Linked DNA regions of Homo sapiens: region 1 is linked to region 2. The links come from fine-mapping of genetic effects on gene expression. Tissue or cell type: visceral fat. Region 2 holds a variant in brackets; the other region holds the start of a gene. All regions are shown on one strand. Distances are from middle to middle.

Evidence for each region. PIP is the estimated chance that this variant, and not a neighbour inherited with it, causes the effect. A credible set is the group of variants that fine-mapping cannot tell apart.
Region 1: HMHB1 starts here. The variant in region 2 is the best candidate, but not a certain one, in a credible set for the expression of HMHB1 in visceral fat (GTEx, PIP 0.88).

The regions. Positions count from the first base shown.
Region 1 is chr5:143,810,417-143,814,818 of GRCh38, reverse strand. HMHB1 (histocompatibility minor HB-1) reads right to left here and starts at 2,658. Exons shown (of 2, transcript NM_021182.3): 1 at 2,515-2,658. The coding sequence starts at 2,551.
Region 2 is chr5:143,742,653-143,747,054 of GRCh38, reverse strand. No RefSeq gene overlaps it. Among named protein-coding and RNA genes, the nearest start is that of MIR5197, 65 kb to the right of the region's middle. The variant T/C (reference allele first, on the strand shown) is at 2,555.

The DNA of each region.
Region 1 (4,402 bases), 68 kb before region 2:
TCCATTTTGAGAAAGTAGGAGACTAAAAGATAAAATTTTTATAATTATGACTCTATTTGTAGGTGAGGCCAGCTTGGATTATGCTAATAATAAGGTATACACTAATACTGGTTACTTTCTGAAGTTTATGACATAATTTTAAATATAATTAGAGACGATTGAAGATTACCCCTATAATGACAGCATCCTTGCATATTAGTTTTTCAATATCTTGAGTGATAAAAAATGAGGAGGATGTGAGATGTTGTGCTGGGAAGTGCACATAGGCCTCAGACTGTCCTCTCTCTGACAGCTAAGTCCTGAGTGAGCTCCTACTATGAACTGAAACGCAAAAAATGGAAAGAGCATTTGTTGGGGCCAGTGTAAGTCAACTGTTTCCATCCTTATTCCTTAACTCAAAAACTCAAATAAAGAAAGACATTGTCAATTTCATGAGCGGTCCATATTTTTTTCTATTGACGAGAGACAAAGAATAACAAATAAAAGTATTTTATAAGGATATGAGTTATAAAATTAACTTTTTGTTATCTCCAAATTGTTATTTTGCAAGGAAAAAAATATAAGTAACAAATATGAGTATTCCTTTTTTTGGATCCATATTTGGCTGGATGCAGCCTGGACAGGTGTCATGGTTATAGATTATTGTCATGTGTCTCAGTTGTGATTTCAGTATGCTTATTGCTAGTTCTTTTATTTTGCCAATGGCTACATTTTTAATAAAGAAAAAGACAAGGATAGATGAGGAAAATATAGAACATTTTTATCTTCAATGCATGTCAGTAAGAATGATGCTATGAAATTTCAGTTAATAATGAAATTGGAGCTACAAAGACCAAATCATAAATAAAATGAATTTGCAATAGTGTTACTCATAGTAACACATAAAAATATGAAAATATCATGTGCCATATTTGCCTCTGCACTGAGTTATATCTGTACTTCTGCTTCAATACTGTAATTGGCCATCTCATTTCTATTGCCTATGGAGCAAAAGTCTGAAATAAAAAAGGTATGTTCATATTTATTACTTATATTTTTTTCCTTGCAAAATGACAATCTGGAGATAAAAAAAGTTAATTTTATAATTCACATCCTTACAAAAGAATTTTATTTGTTATTCTTCCAAAGGAAATCCACATGCCATTTACTTTATCTCTCACCAATAAAAAAAAATATGGACTGCTCATGAGACTGACAATGTCTTTCTTCATTTGAGTTTCTGAGTTAAGGAAACAAGGATGGAAACAGTTGACTTATGCTGGCCCCAACAAATGCCCTTTCCATTTTTTACTTTTCAGTTCAGCTAACATTTATTGACAGCTTTTACTGTGCCAAGCACTGTGCTAGATGCCAAGGATACAGAAATGATTAAAACACAGTTCCTTCCCTCAAGAATCCCATGCTCTGATGGAGGAGGCGAACAAGTGCTTTAGGCCAAAATGTAAAACTATGAGGGCACCAAAAAGGGAGTGGTTTATTTTGCCTGGAAAGAAATAAAACCTTCATAGAAGAGGTGACATTTGAAAGGGGCCTTGAAGGAAAAAAGGGAAGGTCGGTAGTTGTCTGTATGAAACAATAAAACAGCATAAAAATTCTAAAAGAAAGTTCTGTTTGTATTCTGTGGGCTACCTGTGCAACTGGATCTGAGCATTCCCTGGGGTGGCTGAGGGGGCTGTGTGGACCAGACAGAGCACAGGCTTCCCCGGCCTCATCAGTCCAGGCTGAGTGACCTCCAGTTGCAGGAAGGAGAAAACAGCAGATCCCTTCAGTGCACGGCACCAACACCTCCTATAACGTCAACCCAGGGCTCCGTGTGTCCTCTTCAAGAGGAGAAAACAAGACAAAAAAACAAACAAACAAACAAAAAACACGACAGCAGGGCCTTTCTGCCATTTCCTGGCTCTGAAATGAGGTTAGTGAGTTAAGGAATGAAGCCATCGTGTCTTTATCTGTAAACTGGGGAAAGCTATACCCCCCTCAAGTGCTTCTGTGAGGATGAAAGAGAGAAATGCATGCAAAGCCCCCGGCACATGATCCTAAGAAGTGGGAGCATGGCGATGATGGTGATGATGGTGGCCATGCTAAGGATAAAGGACGGGTCTGGTCTCTGGGCTGCCTTGGGAAGCCTGAGCATCCCACGCGGTGGGCAAGAACAATGTGATCTTGGCTACCCTGGCTCCGACCCAGAGGGACTTCCTGCCCATCTGCACTTCCCTTGCCGTTGTCCTTGTGGCTCAGGTGGTGCAGGCAGCTGCTCCAACTGCTGCCTCTGGTGCCCTGACAGCTGCAGGCAGCCAGGCAATGGGCTATGAAACCGAACCTCAACTGGAAACTATCCGCCCTAAATAATCCCAGCAACAAGGGCCGTCTCACTCCTCTCCCCTGCCTTCCGCCATCCCTGTTTTCACCTGTTGTGGTTTCCCTCTCATTCCACCAGCATTTTCTTTCATTTTCTCTGCCCCTTCGCTGCCTCTTTCCCTCTCTCTCTGTTCTCCCTCCTCCTCGCTCCCTCACCTCTTTTTTCTTCTCTGCATTCTGGCTGCTCCTCCAGTTCTGGTTTCTCCACTGTGGTGTGGCAGAGGATGTGAGGTCAGAAGGCTCAGGGCCTGCCCGGCTTCTGAGATGCGGGGCAAGCCGCCTCGGCCTCCTGGGATGTGGTTTCCTCATCTGCAGAATTGGACCAGAATGACTCTGGAGTGTTCCTTCCGTTCTAAACTCCCGTTCTGTTACATTGTGTTGTGTTAGCCTTTGTGCCTGCTTTTCCTGCTTCAGCTGTCTCATCTGTCCACCTGCCTCTTCCATCTGCATCCCACCACTCGGGTCCAAGCTGCCAGCATCCCTTGCAAGGACCCCTAGAGCAGCCTCCTGCTATTGGAGGTCTCTCTGCTCCTGTTCTTATCCACATCCAATGTGTTATCCACACAGAATCCACAGTGACCTTATCAAAATAGAGATGAGATTGCTCACTCAGCTTAAATCCTCCAAACTCCTTTACACCCCTTTTCTATCATAGGTCCCTGTTTATGTTCTTCAGAGTAATTATTATTGCCTGAAATTATCTTTATTTACTCATGAATTTCTTAATGTTGATGTATCATTTGCTGTCTGTCTTCCACACTAGAATGCAGGCTCCAGGAGTGATGGACTTGATTGTCTCGTTTACTCCATATCCTCACTGGAGGGGCCAGCGCCTTTATTCTCTCCATAAACACTGAATGAAGGAACCTCCCTTTGCCGCAGAATCCATCTCTCCCCTTCTTGAGAGTATTCTCTCCTAACCACACCATTTCTTACTTAGAAATACCTGTGCCTGCCAGAAATCCTGCCCATCCTTCTCTGTCATTTCTGATATAATTCCCCTCATTCACTTTTCTCAGTCAGCCGGGTCCTGTGTTCCCATGGGCTATGGTAAAGAACAATGGCAATGATGAAGCTAGTTCTTCTTTCACTTTAATGTCAATCTGTGCCGTTGGATGCCTTAAGATAAAATAACTTAACAACTCTGAGACTTGAATCTAGTTAATTGTCTTACAATGCTGAGAAAGAGACTTCTTTAAGAAAATATATTAAAACTTCCAAAATTCTGTGCTTGGTTCTTGGGGAGATGTTAGGAGTAGCCATTTTCTTTAAAACACCTCTTTAAAGTAGGTAATGTTAATATGTCCATTTTACAGGTAACAAAACTGGGATTTAGAGAGTGCACAACTGGACAAGGCCATAGAGCCAGAGGTGCATGGAGCCAGGATTTGAATGGAAGAAGTGCAACGCCAGACCCAGGCACCTAGCCACCACATGGGTGACCCTAGTCACCCTCTCACTCCCTAGATTAGATTACTCTGCATTATTTTCACCATAACACTTATAAATACCTGATGCGATCATATTTCTTGTGTCTATTTGCTTCCATTATAACATAAACTCCATCCAGGCAGTTACCATATCTGACCTGTTCACTGCACTTATTCCAATACTTACAATAGTGCCTCATACATAATGGACGTTCAATAAATATTTGCTAAATGAATTAGTTATTTGCATATTGAGGATGAGATATGAAAGAAGGCCTGATAATTCTGTATATAAAACTCCATCTTAGCCAGGCACTGTGGCTCACACCTGTAATTCCCAGCACTTTGGGAGGCCAAGGCAGCAGGATCGCTTGAGCCCAGGAGTTTGAAACCAGCCTGGTCAACATAGACCTCATCCCCACACAAAAAAAAATAATAAATAAAAAATAAAAAATTAGCCAGGCACGGTGGTGCATACATGTAGCCTCAGTTACTCAGGAGGCTGAGGCCAGAGGATCAATTGAGCCCAGGAGTTTGAGGCTGCAGTAAGCCATGATCACTCCAATAATGCACCCCAACCTGGATGACAGAGAAAGACTGGGTCTGTAAAAAAC
Region 2 (4,402 bases):
GTACCCAATAATCAAATCCATTAAGATCTACAGTATAATATATGAGTATATGAATATTCCCAGTAAATGGGATCATAAAAACTATAAATACCTCATGTCAGTGCAAGTCAGGTTTCATCACCAAATGAGTTTTTCACAAACTTACAAAAATTTGAGGGTTTTGAATTGTGGATACAAGTCTACGAGGTATGTGGCATTCATCCACATTATCCAACTATAAACTCTTTAAAGAAGAAGGAAGAAAAATAAATTAATAATTAAAATAATAATAATATCATTGATTAGCTTCTTCTGATGCCCTACATCTATGTTATTCATTCTTTACTACAATCCCATAAGGTAGGTCTGATTATCCTCACTTTTTGGAAAGAGAAGCTGAAACTTTGGCAGTCATAAGAATGCCTATCAAAATGCTGCCTTGGAGATGCTGACTTACAAGTATTATAACCTGGGATAGTCACCAAGAAAGTTTGTGCTACTTTTCATTCAAAATAATCTCTCTATTAATTTGAATAAGAGAAAGGAATAGGGCTGGATTAATAATAATGTGCACTCAAGACAATGATATATAGGCATGGTCAGGTTGTGTGTGTTTGAGTAATGCTAGTATGGATAATATGACTTCAAAAAACTATAAATTTGAATTCTTATAATTCATAACTAGGCAAATATTTAATTTTGTCCCAAAGAAAATAACGTTTTAGGAAAATCAGTAATATAAGCAAGACAGTTGTTCTTATTGGAAGAAACACCAACAATAAAACCCATAAAGAAAAAGACCTATAGATTTGGGAGCATAAAGCCAAAATGTTCCATATTCAATGTTTTCCAATTCAAGAGACACACAGCAAACCAGATAATTATTTGCCAGTCAAGTGGTGAAACATTCTTAATACCTAAAAAAGGAGCACCTCTAAGTAAGCAAGGAAAAATACAAAGATGCCAGTAAAAATGGAGTGTCAAGACAGAAGAGCCAGATCCCAAGCCAAGAGGTTAGGCTGGCCAATGAATACATAAAAATATTTTCAACCTCTTCAGAAAACATAAGTAAATAAAGAGATAATAAATAAAACAATGCCACCTAATATATTATAAAAGATGAACAAGATTAATAATGCCCAGAGTTGGCAAGAATATGGAGATGCATCACATTTATCTACACTTGGTTGAAGTAAAAATTAATATAAAACTTCTATAATAAAATGTGGATTGCACTATCTAAAAAGAAAATACCTTTAGCCCAGTAATCCCTCTCCTGTGACTATATCATAAAAGTATAATTAAACAAGCACACAAAAATGTATGCATGGATTCCTGCAGCAATAGTATAATTTGGAAATAGCCTGTAAGCCTAAACAGGGAGGGTTGGTTAAATATGTTACATTTCCTAGAAAGGAATATAATGCAGCCATTAAAAAGGAATGACATATCTGAACACTCAATAAAAAGGAATTTTGAAAAGCATTTTATAAAAGATAATGTCTAGTTGATTTTATTTTTGTGTTTATAGGAATACTGCCATCAGTAGGGCATGAGTAGGAAATATCTATTTTTTTTTCTCCCTTCAAACATATTTGGTTTGATTTTGCTTCTCTGGACAATTGTCTCAAGTAAGATTCTCCAGGAACTTGACTCTGAGACAGAGTCTAGTTGTAAGATGTTTATCACGGAGAGCCCTTGGGAACAACACCTGTTAAAGAGGGAAAGGGCACAGATTGGACAGGGAGAAGGTGAACTCTGGTACCTGCCAGAACAATGACACCTTGGCCAACTTTAGGGAGCTCTAGAGACAAAATGGTCCCATAATGGACTGAAATGGCAAAGCCTCTATATCCTCTGCCTCAGTCATGGGATCTGGGCTACCCTGGGATGGGTGTGATGGACTTGCTCAGGAGGCTCTCTCCAGCTGAGGCCATCCCCACAGGAGGCTAAGGCCAGGTTTTCTCCTGACAGCACTCCAAATGGCTGGGACAAGAGTTCCACTTAAAGGGGTATCTGCATGGCATTTCATGTGTCCACCACAACAATATCTTGGTATATTTCACTGTTTTTTCATTGTGTTCAGGTTGAAAACATATTTTAAATCTAAATCTCACATCTTAAGTTTTTGCCCTTCCCCTCACTATCAGGTTTCACCTGAGGCTCAGAGCCTAGCTGGAGGTAAGGAAGATCAGTAATCTGTTAATTTAAGTCATCTATGAACCTACTTTTTTGTTTTTTTTGCAGCTCCACCCTACCTCCATAGGCAGCCAAAAGTGGGCTCCTTACAGGATGCCTGGCATGCACATGACTCAAAAGAAATTCCACCACCCCTGGCCTGTGAAGGGGATCACTCCTCCTGGTGGAATTATTTCTCTCCCTGAATGAGACTTTGGGATTCTCCCAGTGAGAGACATGCACCGTCTCTGTGTCTGTGTCTTTAGACTCTGGGCCATTTTCAGCTCTCCCAAGAATCTCCTGTGTTTCAATCAGGGAGCAGACCAGGAAAAGCCTCTGTGTTTTCTTCTATTAGGTTGGTGTAAAAGTAATTGCAGTTTTTGCAATTACTTTTCAT[T/C]GCAGGTCTGTGTTACAATGCAGCAAGCTTCACTTGTGGCAGTAAGGTACAATTTTCCTCTGCTGGCAGGGACCTCACCCTCTCTCTGGATCCTTCACTGGGCTTGAGAGGAGGAGACATACCACAGTATTGCCTCCTCCTGTGAGTTTCCTTTTGTTGAATGATTTTTCCCCAGAAGTGTCTCTAGCCACTCACTGCATAAGGGCTGGAGTGGGTGCTGGATGTTGATAGTGGAAAGCCAGTTGGACATCTTTCAGTAAGAATGCTCCAGCTCCTCTCTCTAGAATGTGTGAGTACTTGTCTTCCATTGTCCTGAGATTTGGGGCCTCAGCTAACACTCTGAAACAACTCAAAGAACCCCATTTAATAGCTAGTTACATGTGTAAAATTGTATACATGCGCACACACACACACACACACACATTAGAAGGGATATTTGCCAAAATGCTGATGTTGGTTGTCTCTAGGTAGTTGAATTTAGGAGGAATTTTCTTTGTTCTTTAACATTCTATTCTAAACATGTGCTGTTTTTTGAAGTCAGAAATGAAAAGGGGAAAGAAAGAGCACCAGGCTTGGAGTCCTGCGTCCTTGGATGCCTGTGTCCTGGTCCTGGATGGGCCATCTAACAAGTTCTATAGCCTTGGGAGAATGATTTAAACTCAGTGGTCTCATCCATGAGTTAATTTAATTAGGTTAGAATAAACTATGACCTGAAGCCGGAAAGAAAACCAGCATGTTTATTCATGGCCACCAAAAGTTGCAGAATAAATATTGTACTTATGATAAGTGTGTTTCTTTATTAATCAGATACATACCAAGTAATTGCAGTGTGCCAAATGCTCGGTTGAAATAAGGACCCAGAGATAAATGAAGCCAATACCTAGACTCAAAGACCTCCCTGTCCAGTATGGAAGACAGACCTGCAAATAAGCCCACTGACAATTCAGTGTGGTCAGAGTAGTGACATCAGCATGTGGAAAGGGCAGATGAATTCTAGGAGGCAGGGGAGATTAGGGATCACTTTCTTGATCAGTGATACTGGCACCAAAGTGGGTTCTAAAGAATGAGGAGGAATTTATAAGATAAACACTAGGATACTATTAAAATCACTCGAACATTTTGAAGACAAATAATATTGTAGAGGGCATTTAAGGAGAAATCCATTCTCCTTTGATGTTTTCCAGCTTAATCATTCATAGTCTCTTCCGAAACTCTTCCCAACTGAATCTCAATGCCTTCCTGCACGGTTCATGAAGTCTAAGCATACATCTGTTTGTAGAATCTCTGCAGTGAAGAACACACAGTTCTCAAGTCTCACTTTGGTCCTACTTGCTTTCTAATACTGAAAATGCTAAGTAAACAAGATTCTTATCTGATTATTAAGACATTCACAGGGTTCTCTAAGACAAGTGTCTCCTCTTCCCCTCTAACCCCACAACGAGTTCCTGTTGGTGGAAACTTGAAAATAATCAAGCCTAATTTCTTAAAATTATTCTAACTCTTGAACTTTTCCCCGATTGGCCTCCCTCCATTGGGACGACCTAATGAGAGTGATTCCGTCGATGCATGTGGAACCATGGCACGGAGCTGGCACACAGAGAGGGATCTACATCACATCCAGGTTAATGATGGGATTGGGACACATGTGGACGCTACAGAACTGGTAACCAGGATGCAGTTAAATAAAGATTCTCTCAATATTTGTTCAACATTGATTCAACAGAGAGACAGGAAACTGCATGGAAGCTGGGGGCAGCCCTCCACCTCTCCATTAATGTTCTAAGTGATTTAACTGCCCATGAACTTGCCCTTTCCTTACAGCAAAAGTGAGGTTCCACAGAGAAATGG